Linked DNA regions of Homo sapiens: region 2 is linked to region 1. Evidence: fine-mapped expression QTL. Tissue or cell type: blood mononuclear cells. Region 1 holds a variant in brackets; the other region holds the start of a gene. All regions are shown on one strand. Distances are between the middles of the regions.

Region 1 (5,373 bases):
ACTAAAATTAGGGTGCAGTTTCCTGCTACCCTATACTCAGGCTGAACACATGGAGCTGATCATTTCAACAAGCTTGCCTAGCTTTTCCTTTTGATGGAGAAACACAGTGGGAAAAGATTGGTTCTTCAGAAATTTCATTCCAGTGTCTTTGACAACTTCATTTTTTTCGTTTTTGGGGGATTTATCTTGTTTTTTAAACAGCAGGTGATTTGCACCATTTTGAAATAATCAGTGCCTTTCTCATCATAGCTTGAGAGAGACTAGGTTAAAGAACTAGAGAGAGGAGCCCAGAGGGTATGGAATGCATCATGCAGTAGCACCAGACTCTTCTATCAATTACCACGTTTTCTGAAGGTGGTGTTTCATTCTTGGAAGTTTCCAAGTTGGGCCTGCCTGTTAGGTTTTAAAAGGAGCAGAAGGATAATAGTGGTGCAAACGGCTTTACAAATATTTTTGATGGCAGATCTGCAATATCTAGGTCTCACTGAGTCAAATACCAGAAGCACTGATGCTTCTTGCCCACCCTTTCCAGTGGAGGGAGGAAGGGCCCTGCTCCACTTCGACCAGAGCAGTCAGCAGCCTCTTCAGGACGTTGCTGGGTGCTGGGTTGCATTGTACAAGGCTACCCAAAGTGGGTCCAATTCCTGTCCTCTTGGAGGGGCATCTGAAGCAGAGAACATTGACATGGGAACATAAAGAATGACATAGCTGTAATTATGTAAGCTTAATATAAGACACTGGTTTTCATGTAGTTTATGAAAATAATGTTCATTGTTTTATAGTCATCCCAACTACAGACTTGCATAATAAACCAATCAGCATTCCCTTTGCTATATTTTCCCTTGTTCATAGCCACAGGAGAAAAATTGGGATCCCCTAAGTAAAAATAAAAAAGACCTATTATTTTGATGACCATGGTCTCTGCGTGGTTGTGGATGAAGGGGTGAAGAAAAAGAAATTATTACACAATAGCCTTTCTCAAAATGAATGGCTTGTTTTAAACAATGTGTTTTTCTTGGCAAGTTCAGAGCTACTACAAAACAACCATCACTGCTGAAACCTTGCAGAACCAGCAGGAGCGAGTTATCTTCTCTTGCTCAAGGGACACGCCAACTGTGAACTCTTCCCTCCTCACCTCCTGGCAGGGAGATGGGTAATTCCAAAGCTCATATATACCCCAAAGTAGCCTTTTTAGGTTTTGTCCCTCTCCCTTTGGGTCTTTTATAACACAGCTGTCTACATGAAGAGAAGAAAGTCAGCACCAAGCTGATGGACTCTAAGTGATCACAGATACAAAGAGACAGTGGTTTCTGAGTAGGTGCAATGTTATGAAACAGGGTGAAAACTATCAAGCACAGGTGGGTGTCTGCTACTGAGAGGGACTGCAAAGAGCCGAGACAGCCCATCAGGGTAAGGATCATTTGCTCTTTCTATAATGTGTCTCTCCCTACTTGATCCAAGGCCTGCCTTTTTCTCTTACCCCACTGTTTACCTGCTGTTTCTCTGCCTTGCATGCCCCACGCTCATTTAGCCTTCATGCCTTTGAACTCATTATTTCCTCTGCCTCTCCCCAGAGTCTTTGTGTGGAAGGCTCCTTCCTGTCATTTTGTTTCAACCTCAATGCCACCTCTTCGGAGATACCTTCTCTGACCTTTCATTGTAAAGTGATAGCCACCTTCTCCCGGAAATCCTCCCAGCAAACAGGCACTATCACATTGCCTGATTTTGTTTCATTTACAGCATTTGACACTTGCACAACTAAAAAAAAATTGCTTTATAACATTGCTTCATACTCTAAGTTTCGATTCCCTGGGCAAAGCTGGGCCCTAGGCCTTGGGCAGACAGTCTTCTGTGCAGTTTTCTGTCTCCTAAAGGTCTTGAGTGGTCACCTCCAGCCTCTCCCCTGCTCCCCTCTGCCTTTGCATCACTACAGTTCCACATCCAGATTTTATCTTCACCACTCAGCTCACATCTTGGTCTCTTTCTTTTGAAGGTGGAGTCTTGCTCTGTGGCCCAGGCTGGAGTGCAGTGGCTCGATCTCAGCTCACCACAACCTCCGCCTCCTGGGTTCAAGCGATTCTCCTGCCTCAGCCTCCCAAGCAGCTGGGATTACAGGCATGTGCCACTATGCCCAGCTAATTTTGTATTTTTAGTAGAGAGGGGGTTTCTCCATGTTGATCAGGCTGGTCTCAAACTCCCAGCTTCAGGTGATCCACCCCCCTCAACTTTCCAAAATGCTGGAATTGCTGGTGTGAGCCACCGTGCTCAGCCAACATCTTGGTCTCTTTTGCTCTTAACAGTAAGCAGGCCTCGATATAGGACCAAGAAGCAAGTGCTGGGCACCTCCAGAGGATCCCATGTGGCTGCCCTCAATCATCCAGAAGAGCAGAAAGTAAGCTGATACAAACCACGTTCTTCATGGCCTGCGATGGGGCACATGAACCCATGACTGCATGAGTAAATGTCGCCGCAGGGCTCTGTGTGGAGTGTGACTGGGGGGGTGTGGATCCTTAGCAAAATGAATCAAGAGGCAAACTTTGCCTGTGATGGCAACACCACTCAGGTCCCCCACTTCTCCTGTCTTTGGGGTTGACTTGCTCCAGTTGGAAAGCAGCTTCCCTGAAGCTGCTTTTCCTGCCCTTTCTCCCCCAGGAAGCTGACGGGAGGAGGAAAATGAAGTATCTGATGCAGGGCTAAGGTTAGACAGAAAACATAAGAACAAGGAGGAAAAGAAGCCCTCTGAGACTCTTGGGTGAGGACATTGAGGGACAGAATATATATTTCTAGGGTCCCTAGTTGGCATTC[G/A]GAACATTTTTCCCCATACACCAGTGTTTCTTAACCAGAGGTAATTGTGTTCCACAGGAGACATTTCGTAATGCCTGGAGACAGTTTTGCTTGTTACATCTGAGAAGGGGGTGCCACTGGCATCCCTGAGTAGAGGCCAGGCATGTTGCCGCGCATCCTACAATGCACAGGACAGCCCTTGCCACAAATAATTGTCTGTCCCAAAATGTCAGTAGTGCCAAGGTTGAGAAACTATATCATAGAACAATGATGTATTTGGTAATTTTGCTTAATAACTCAACCATAGTGGCTTAAATAGGTTTTGAAGATTTCCTGTATTTATTCATTTATTTATTTTGACAGGGTTCCCCTCTGTCACCCAGGCTAGGATGCAGTGGCACAACACAGCTCATTGCAGCCTTGAACTTCCAGGCTCAAGTGATCCTCCCACCTCAGCCTCCTGAGTAGCTGGGACTACAGGTATGCACCACCACACCTGACTGATTTTTAAAATTTTTATAGAGATGAGTTCTCGCTATGTTGCCCAGGCTGGTCTCAAACTCTTGTGCTCAAGCAATCCTCCCGCCTGGGCCTCCCAAAGTGCTAGGATTACAGGCATGAGCCACTAAGCCCGGCCAAGCTTGACTTTAATATCTCGCTACATGTCTCTACTAGAGAGTATCTTTTAAGCTTCACTTGGTCAAATAACAGTAATTACATGGCTCACACATAGCAGGTACATACATCACTTTGTTCATTTCCTTCACAGCACTAATCATAAAGGGGAACAACCTTTTAAATTTGCTTAATTAATAGCTTTCTGCTCCAACTAGGATACAACCTCCTAGAATATTGCCTGATCTAGAGTAGACACTCAATAAACATTTGCTGAATGAATGAATTCAGACAGTTAGCTACTGCCTGTTTCTTCTTATAGGCAGAAGCCATCTCTCGTGTATGTGTCTATATCTATAGCAGCTAGCGCAGATTTTTATATATACAGAAAACTCAACAACTGATCTCTGAAACCATGAATCAAGGCGTGTGAATGAATAAATGAGTTAATTAATATATAAATGAACAGGCAAACAGTACTAATATTCCTATGTCCACTGTGAAAAAATTAGTAAGCATGCATGCTACTACAGAGGATATTTCAGAATGCATGGTGAGTTTAAGGGCCTTGTTCTACGCTCCAGCTTCCTCTCTGTAGAACTTTCTCCCCGGGAGTCAGGTGAAGAGTACAGATTGAGTGCTAGAGACAGTGGTTTTCAGCAGAACTCTGAACCTAAGCTAAGGAAGTGATGACTCCTCTCCCTTCCTAACTATTTTCTAAGAATGTTTTGGCCCTCTGCCATCAAAGGATGAATGCTACAAGTAGTGTAAGTTAGTAATATGGCGAGTGTGATGATTCAAATGGCTCAAAGGAGGCAAAAAAAAGTCTTTGTTGCACAGTTCTCTTTCCTATTCTTTTCTATAAATAGCATGTTGATTTTTAAGAGCTGCCAGATTTTATAAACTTCTTTTCCAGAGTGATTTATTAGTGTCAAGCATTACTATCATCCTGTAGTTCTAAACTCCTCTCCTGTGGGCAGTAATTTAGCCCTAGTTTTTTCTCTGTGATAAACCTTTGCATGATTCGTGAGTCTCTAATTAGGGATCATAGTTTCCTTGCAGGTCTCTGCAAAGAAACAGCCAACAATCTCAGGTTAAGAGACTCAACACAAGAGAGAAACCAATTTTGCAAAGTGTCCCAATAATGTCTCTCATAGAACTTTTTCTCCCTGAGCCAGGATCCAAAATAGTGTCATGCATTGCACGTAGCTGTCATGCCTCTTTAGTCTCCTTTAATCTCGAACAGCTGATGGGGGCATATTTGCAGCGAGTATCCATTAAAAAATACTTACACTCTCCAGATACATCAGCTTGGTTAATTGGAAAGCTCTTTAATAATTGTTTTAGTACATAAAATTAAGAGTTTCCACAAGAATAATTAATCATACAGTATTTTATAATAAGAAATATTTATATATCAACTGACTACGGAATTTCAACTTGCAAAGCACATAAATGGATTTTTCACCCTGAGTTACATCTAAAATGCTTACCTATATTTGAAAGTGATGGAAAGCTGGTGAGTAAATATTCCCCTATTCTGTTCCTTGGGTGGACAATTCTGAGACACATTCTACACATTTTCTAAGAAGGTTCTGGCAGCATTGAGATGCATGTGCTCACAAAGGTGTCAGTCTCAGTCTGTACGGGCTGCTATGACAAACATGCCACAGCCTGGGTGGCCAGCATAGTCAGGTTCTGGTGAAGGCTCACTTTCCTAATTCTAAGACAATGTTCTTGTTGTGTCCTCACATGGCAGAAGGGGAAGAAGTGAGAGAGATATTTGGGGTCTCTTTTATAAGGGCACTAATCATTTTCATGAGAGCTCCACTCTCATGACCTAATCACCTTGCAAAGAACCCACCTCCTAAGACCATCACCTTAGGGGTCAGGATTTCAACATACACATTTGGGGGATCACAAACATCCAGTCCATGACAGTGACCAAATTAAGAGCTCACCCTTGCAAGGATC
Region 2 (5,373 bases), 24 kb before region 1:
TGAAATGCAATATCCTTTAATTAAAGAACTACGAAGAATCAACCCTGCATGGAGCCTGGACTGCAGAACGACCTGTAATTTAAAAGATGAGAATTTTTCAAAAAATAAAATGTCATGTGCATCTATCTACCCAGAAAATCATTTATGTAGAGTACCAACTCTGTTTGCCTCTCTCTTCTTCACTTTTAAAAAGACTCAGGCCTATGAGGGAGGTTGGGACGCCTGGGGAGGAAAATGAAGAGAGGAAAAAGTCAGCGGGGGTTCCCTCCCGGGGTAGGGCGGTGAGGCGCAGCCACGTCCCAAGGGCAAGAACCGGATCGGCCCGGGGCGCGGCGCGGGCGGCTGTGCGCACGCGCGTGGGTTCACCCGCTTCATTGAGGCCCTCAGCCCTGCCTACTCCACATCCCCAGCGCCCCACGCTCAGAGTTACAGGGGAGGGGTTGGAGAGGATCCCAGAAAATGATGCTGTGAAGATCCCAGGTGGATAAGCAGGAGGAAGGCAAGGACGTTGAGGGCAAAAAACCTTAAGCCACTCCCAAGCCTGGGCTCTGCACGAGTCTGAGCGAGGTTGGGGGCCCGCAGCTGGTGGCCTGGTCCGGGAAAGCTGGGCCGGCCCCACGCGGAACCCCGAGCGAGGGGCGGAGCCGTGGGCCGGGCCGCGTGGCAACCCCCCTGAGGCCCCGCCCCTCGGAAAGCCTCCCGCCCTGCCATTGGAAGACGTCGGGGGAGGGTCCGAGAAACGCCCCCCTCTCGCCACCAGCCCCCGCCCCACCCCTTGTCCGCCCACGTTTTCGGTTCTTCCCGGAGCCTCCGAGCTCGGGGAAAGGAAACACCCGGGGCCGCCACCGTGCCCCTGGACACCGGAAGGCGAGCCCCCAACCGCCCCGCCCGCAGGCCGGTGACATAACCAGGGGCGGGGAGACATGACTCCGCCCCCAGGGCCAGGAAGGCTGCATGGGAGTCTGAGGCTCCCGCGGGACGTGAGTTAGGGGCCGCACATTGCAGACACCTCACGTCACCAAGTGCTGCAGTAGGACCCCCGCAGCTTCCCCTCGGCCCCCTACCCTCCACAGCCTGTCCTACCCCCGTTATTTTGCACCTTTCTCCCCCTTTGTCTATGCATCTCCAAATATCTGAGTATGGGGACGGCAAGATTGGCCCTAGAGGGCAAGCTGCCTGTAGAAGCAAATTCAACGCTTCTCCTTAATCCGTGTGCATTTCTACAGTTTGACAGCTTGACGTCCTCTAGTGTAGTTTGGCAAAATTTGGGGGGTCGTTTTCATTTTTTTCTCTCCACAGGCTTAAGGATTAAAGCTGGCCAATGCCTTCTTTAGCATTTTATTAAAGACGCTACAATTTAGACTTTTTTTTTTTCTGTTTGGTGCAGAAGAAAGGAAGAAAACCAGAGCTTAAAGGCGTTTAGAAAGGAAATAGCCCTGTTAGTTTTTCGGTTTTGACTCAAGCTGTCGTCGATAGCAGCTTGCACCTAGCACAAAGCCAGCTGCAGAAGTATTTTGTTGCAGGGTAGGCTACACCTACACAGGGTCTGTGCCTGAGCATCAAAAGACAGTGCAGGTGTGTGTGGGTCCGGGTGTGCGTGTGCGTACGTGATGTACGTGTGTGCGTGTGGGTACGTGTGTGTGTAGCCCAACAAATAAGCCCAAGAGGCGCATCAAGATTAGAAAGAAGTCCGCACACCAGCGCTTGCCTTGGAAATTTCCTAAAGCGCTGAGAGTTGGTTGGTAAATCACTAGTATCCGAAAACTGTCTTATCAGAGGCTCCTTCCCCGGTGCCCTACTCGCCCCCTAAAACAGGTGTCGCTGTGTCCCTTGAAGCGGCCTTTGGCCCGCTGGGGCATCGCAGGTGGGTAAAATTCAGAGGACATTCGGTGTTTATTTCTGGGGCCCCACGTGTGCAAACCAAACCCCCGGGGCCTGGGCGTGTGCGCGCGCTCGCGTGCCTTGTGTGCGGGCGGGCATGGGGGCGCTCGGCGCGGCTGGCGGGCGTGCGCGCGCGCGTTTGTGTGTGTGTGTGTGTGTGTGTGTGTGTGTGCTCGTGCGGGGGGCCGGGCTGCGTGCTCACGCGCTCCAGGCTGCGCCCAGAGCTCAGCTGCTGGGTTGGAGAAAAAGAGGGTAGGCAAGCGCAGGGGGCGGGCGGCCGAGGAGCGCTTTCGAATTAATCGAGCTAGCTTAGCTGTTTTTCCCTCTCCCGCTCCTTTAAACCCCCCTGCATCGTAGAGAGCGGGCTGGATTCTCTGTGGTGCTGATGGAGGAGGGGGAGCAGGTTGAAACAATCGAGTGGGCGCGCCAGGACTCCCCAGCTCCTGGCGGGGAAGGGAGGGGGAGCCCCTGTTCTGCGCAGGGAGGCGGCGGGGCTGGGGGGCCCCCGGAACGAGGAAGAGGCAGGGGTGACCGCTAGAATAGGAAAGTGCTCACCCCCGGGAGGCAAAATTTCGTTCAGATCGCACATTAATTGGAGATATCTGATTAATTCCAGCTTCTGATGACTATAAATGGCGATTCTCTACCAAGGTGTCTATATTAAAAAAAAAATCATTCCGTGTCATCCCCCACGTCAGGCCTGCTCGTGGGCGTGAGGCTGTACTTCCTCCGCCCCCTTCTAATGGAGTGAACCATTCCCAGCTCTCCCCCCCCCCTCAGCCTCTCTCTCTCTCTCTCTTTCTCTCTCTCTCTCTCTTTCTGTCTCTTCCTCGCTCCCTCTCTTTCTCTCCTCCCTCTGCCTTCCCAGTGCATAAAGTCTCTGTCGCTCCCGGAACTTGTTGGCAATGCCTATTTTTTGGCTTTCCCCCGCGTTCTCTAAACTAACTATTTAAAGGTCTGCGGTCGCAAATGGTTTGACTAAACGTAGGATGGGACTTAAGTTGAACGGCAGATATATTTCACTGATCCTCGCGGTGCAAATAGGTAAGTGGCCGCTCAGCCCGGCTGGAGGCTGGAGGCGGGAGGCAGCCTGCCCCGGCCCGAGGCGCGGAGGGGGACTAGCGGGTCCGCGGCCGCCCCAGGGTGCGGAGAAGCCGGCAATCCCCCGAGGGTGGGGGCATCAGTTCCTGGGGACTAGCGCGTCCCAGATCGGTTTTTCCTAAAGCTATAGATTCCAAATGTTCGCCAGGAAATGTGTGCGGCCGGACATTTTCTGGACACGGTTTTTTTCCCCCTTTTTCCTGAGCACACATCCATTTTTGTTTCCCTTTCTGGGTTTATACCAGGTTTGGTGCGCTCTGGGGCAATGTACTGGCCCCTGCGATACTGCAAGATATGATTTTGAAGAGTCGAAATGTGAATGCAGGAATAAAATGGCTAGGCAGCCAGGACTGGAAAGTTTATGTGCTGAAAGCAAAGATATTCCAGGGCTCAGACTGCTGCATTTAGAACTTTGTCATTCTCCCGCCCCTCCTCCCCCCTATATCCTAGCTGCAGCGTTTGCACGGGCACCGCAGACCCGGCTGGTGGGCAAATCGAGAGTGATAGGGAACTTCAGACCACATATTTTAACATGCTTACCATTGAAGAGGATGAATTCAGCCAAATTTACGTAGATATACTTTTCTAGATGCATTTGCCTGCTACTTTACACATTGGTGTCTGCATTTTATATATAGGAAAGGGTTAAGAAGTGTTTGGAATATGTCATGTCGGGTGTTTGTTATTTTTGTTTGTTTGGGATTGGTTATGGAAGGAATTATTTAGTCCCCATTTTATGTTAAGGAATGTTGAGTTGTAGTTACGCTGTCAGGGGTCTTTTTAAAGTTCACATTTTTACCATCCAGAATGAAGAAAAGATATAGAAGAGGGCACTAGAAAACCCCCTTCTCCGACACTGGGTCAGAACATTAATTAACGTGGCCTAAAAGTGAAAGTGAAGCAGGTTATTAATAGAATGGACAACACGGGGGAAAAAAGAAACTCCTGAAACGGAATTGTTACCTCCTATCAGTTCAGGCTGTGGCATTCTTTGCAGACAAATCCTTGCAGTATTGGGGGAGGGGGTGCTTTAGGTAATTGGTTTGGGGCAAGAAAGGAGAATGCATAATATGTTTTTTCCATAAGAAATGTGAAGGAAACAAGGTTTGGAGTTCTCTAGACCTTAAAATGGATTCTTTGCAGTGGGGTTTTATGCAACTGACATGATTTTGAGATTTTATAATGCAGAAACATTATAAAGATTTTAGAGTGTGTGAGTGCAGGATATTGGTGTTTTCCTTTAGTTCCAAAAAATGACAATGCTTTAAATCTGGTTGTTTTGAATCTTTGACATTAGTGAAAAGAGCTGCTGTAAATAATATTTCTAATGGCAGCAAATTCCTTAAATGTTGGAAATAAGTGAATGTGGCATTTTGCAATAAACCTTTGAATTTTTAGAGAGCAGGAGAGAGAGTTGTTTTTGAGATAGAAATTTTAATCGGACAAGATTTGGGACTCTGTTTTCCCGGTAGGAAATAACCTTACTTTGAGAGGTTTGGAGGGAAAAAAAAGACGGTGGTCGTGCCTGAGGGACGCGTTTTGAACACATTAACCTCGGTCCAAAAATGACTATTTGTTGACTGTGGAATTGAAATTGAACGTATTTGTTCCCTAATGTCTGCCCTTTCCTGCAACAGAACCTCGGTCTTTATTAATTCACGGCTGGGAGCTGTCCCAAATCATTGACATTTGGCAAGAAAAGTGGGGGTTGGGAGGGGCGGGGAGGTAGAAGAGTGTGGTGAACACGAAAGAAGACGCAGCAGGAGGAAGTTCGGAATGAATGAGAGGTCGAACGAATGAATGAACGGATGGAAACCGCACAAGAAGGGGACGGCAGAGAGGACAGGGAAGGAGCCAGGGTCACCCGCTAGAGTCTCGCCTAAGCGGGGTTCAGGAAGGACAGCGAGGGACCCACGGGCTGCGACCTGCTGGGACGCGTGCGCCTGCAAAATCCGTCCCGCGCGCAGCCTCCCGGCCTCCCAGAGAAGGCTAGAGTCCAAGGAGTCACAGTTTTAAAAGACAGAAATGTTCACGACTTATTTTACACAGCACACACTCACACATGCGCGGTGTGCAGGGTCTTCTCCAGCAGCGCCTGGGAAGATAACGTGACAAGAGCGCTCCCGCCCCCGGCGAGCCCCAATTCCCCTTAAAAAATGTCAATGCATTTTAGGGGCTTCTTTCGCCACTGAGTTTTGGGGGTGTAGGCAAGGGGTGGGGAGAGACGTGGACGGGGAGATTGGACTTTATTTTATTTCGTTTCTTCTCTGCAAAGCTGTATTTGTGACATGCGTTATAGAGGAAGATGTGTGGAGTGTATTTCCATTTTGAACGAGCTCTATCAGAACAAAGATTCGTTTATTCTTAAGATTTTACGTCAGTGTTCGATTT

What was found.
Region 2: NRN1 starts here. The variant in region 1 is fine-mapped to the expression of NRN1 in blood mononuclear cells (TOPMed, PIP above 0.99).

What each region holds. Positions count from the first base shown.
Region 1 is chr6:5,980,563-5,985,935 of GRCh38, reverse strand. No RefSeq gene overlaps it. Among named protein-coding and RNA genes, the nearest start is that of NRN1, 24 kb to the left of the region's middle. The variant G/A (reference allele first, on the strand shown) is at 2,806.
Region 2 is chr6:6,004,247-6,009,619 of GRCh38, reverse strand. NRN1 (neuritin 1) reads left to right here and starts at 2,695. Exons shown (of 3, transcript NM_016588.3): 1 at 2,695-2,925. The coding sequence starts at 2,871. RefSeq lists a silencer at 645-764 and an enhancer at 5,231-5,373.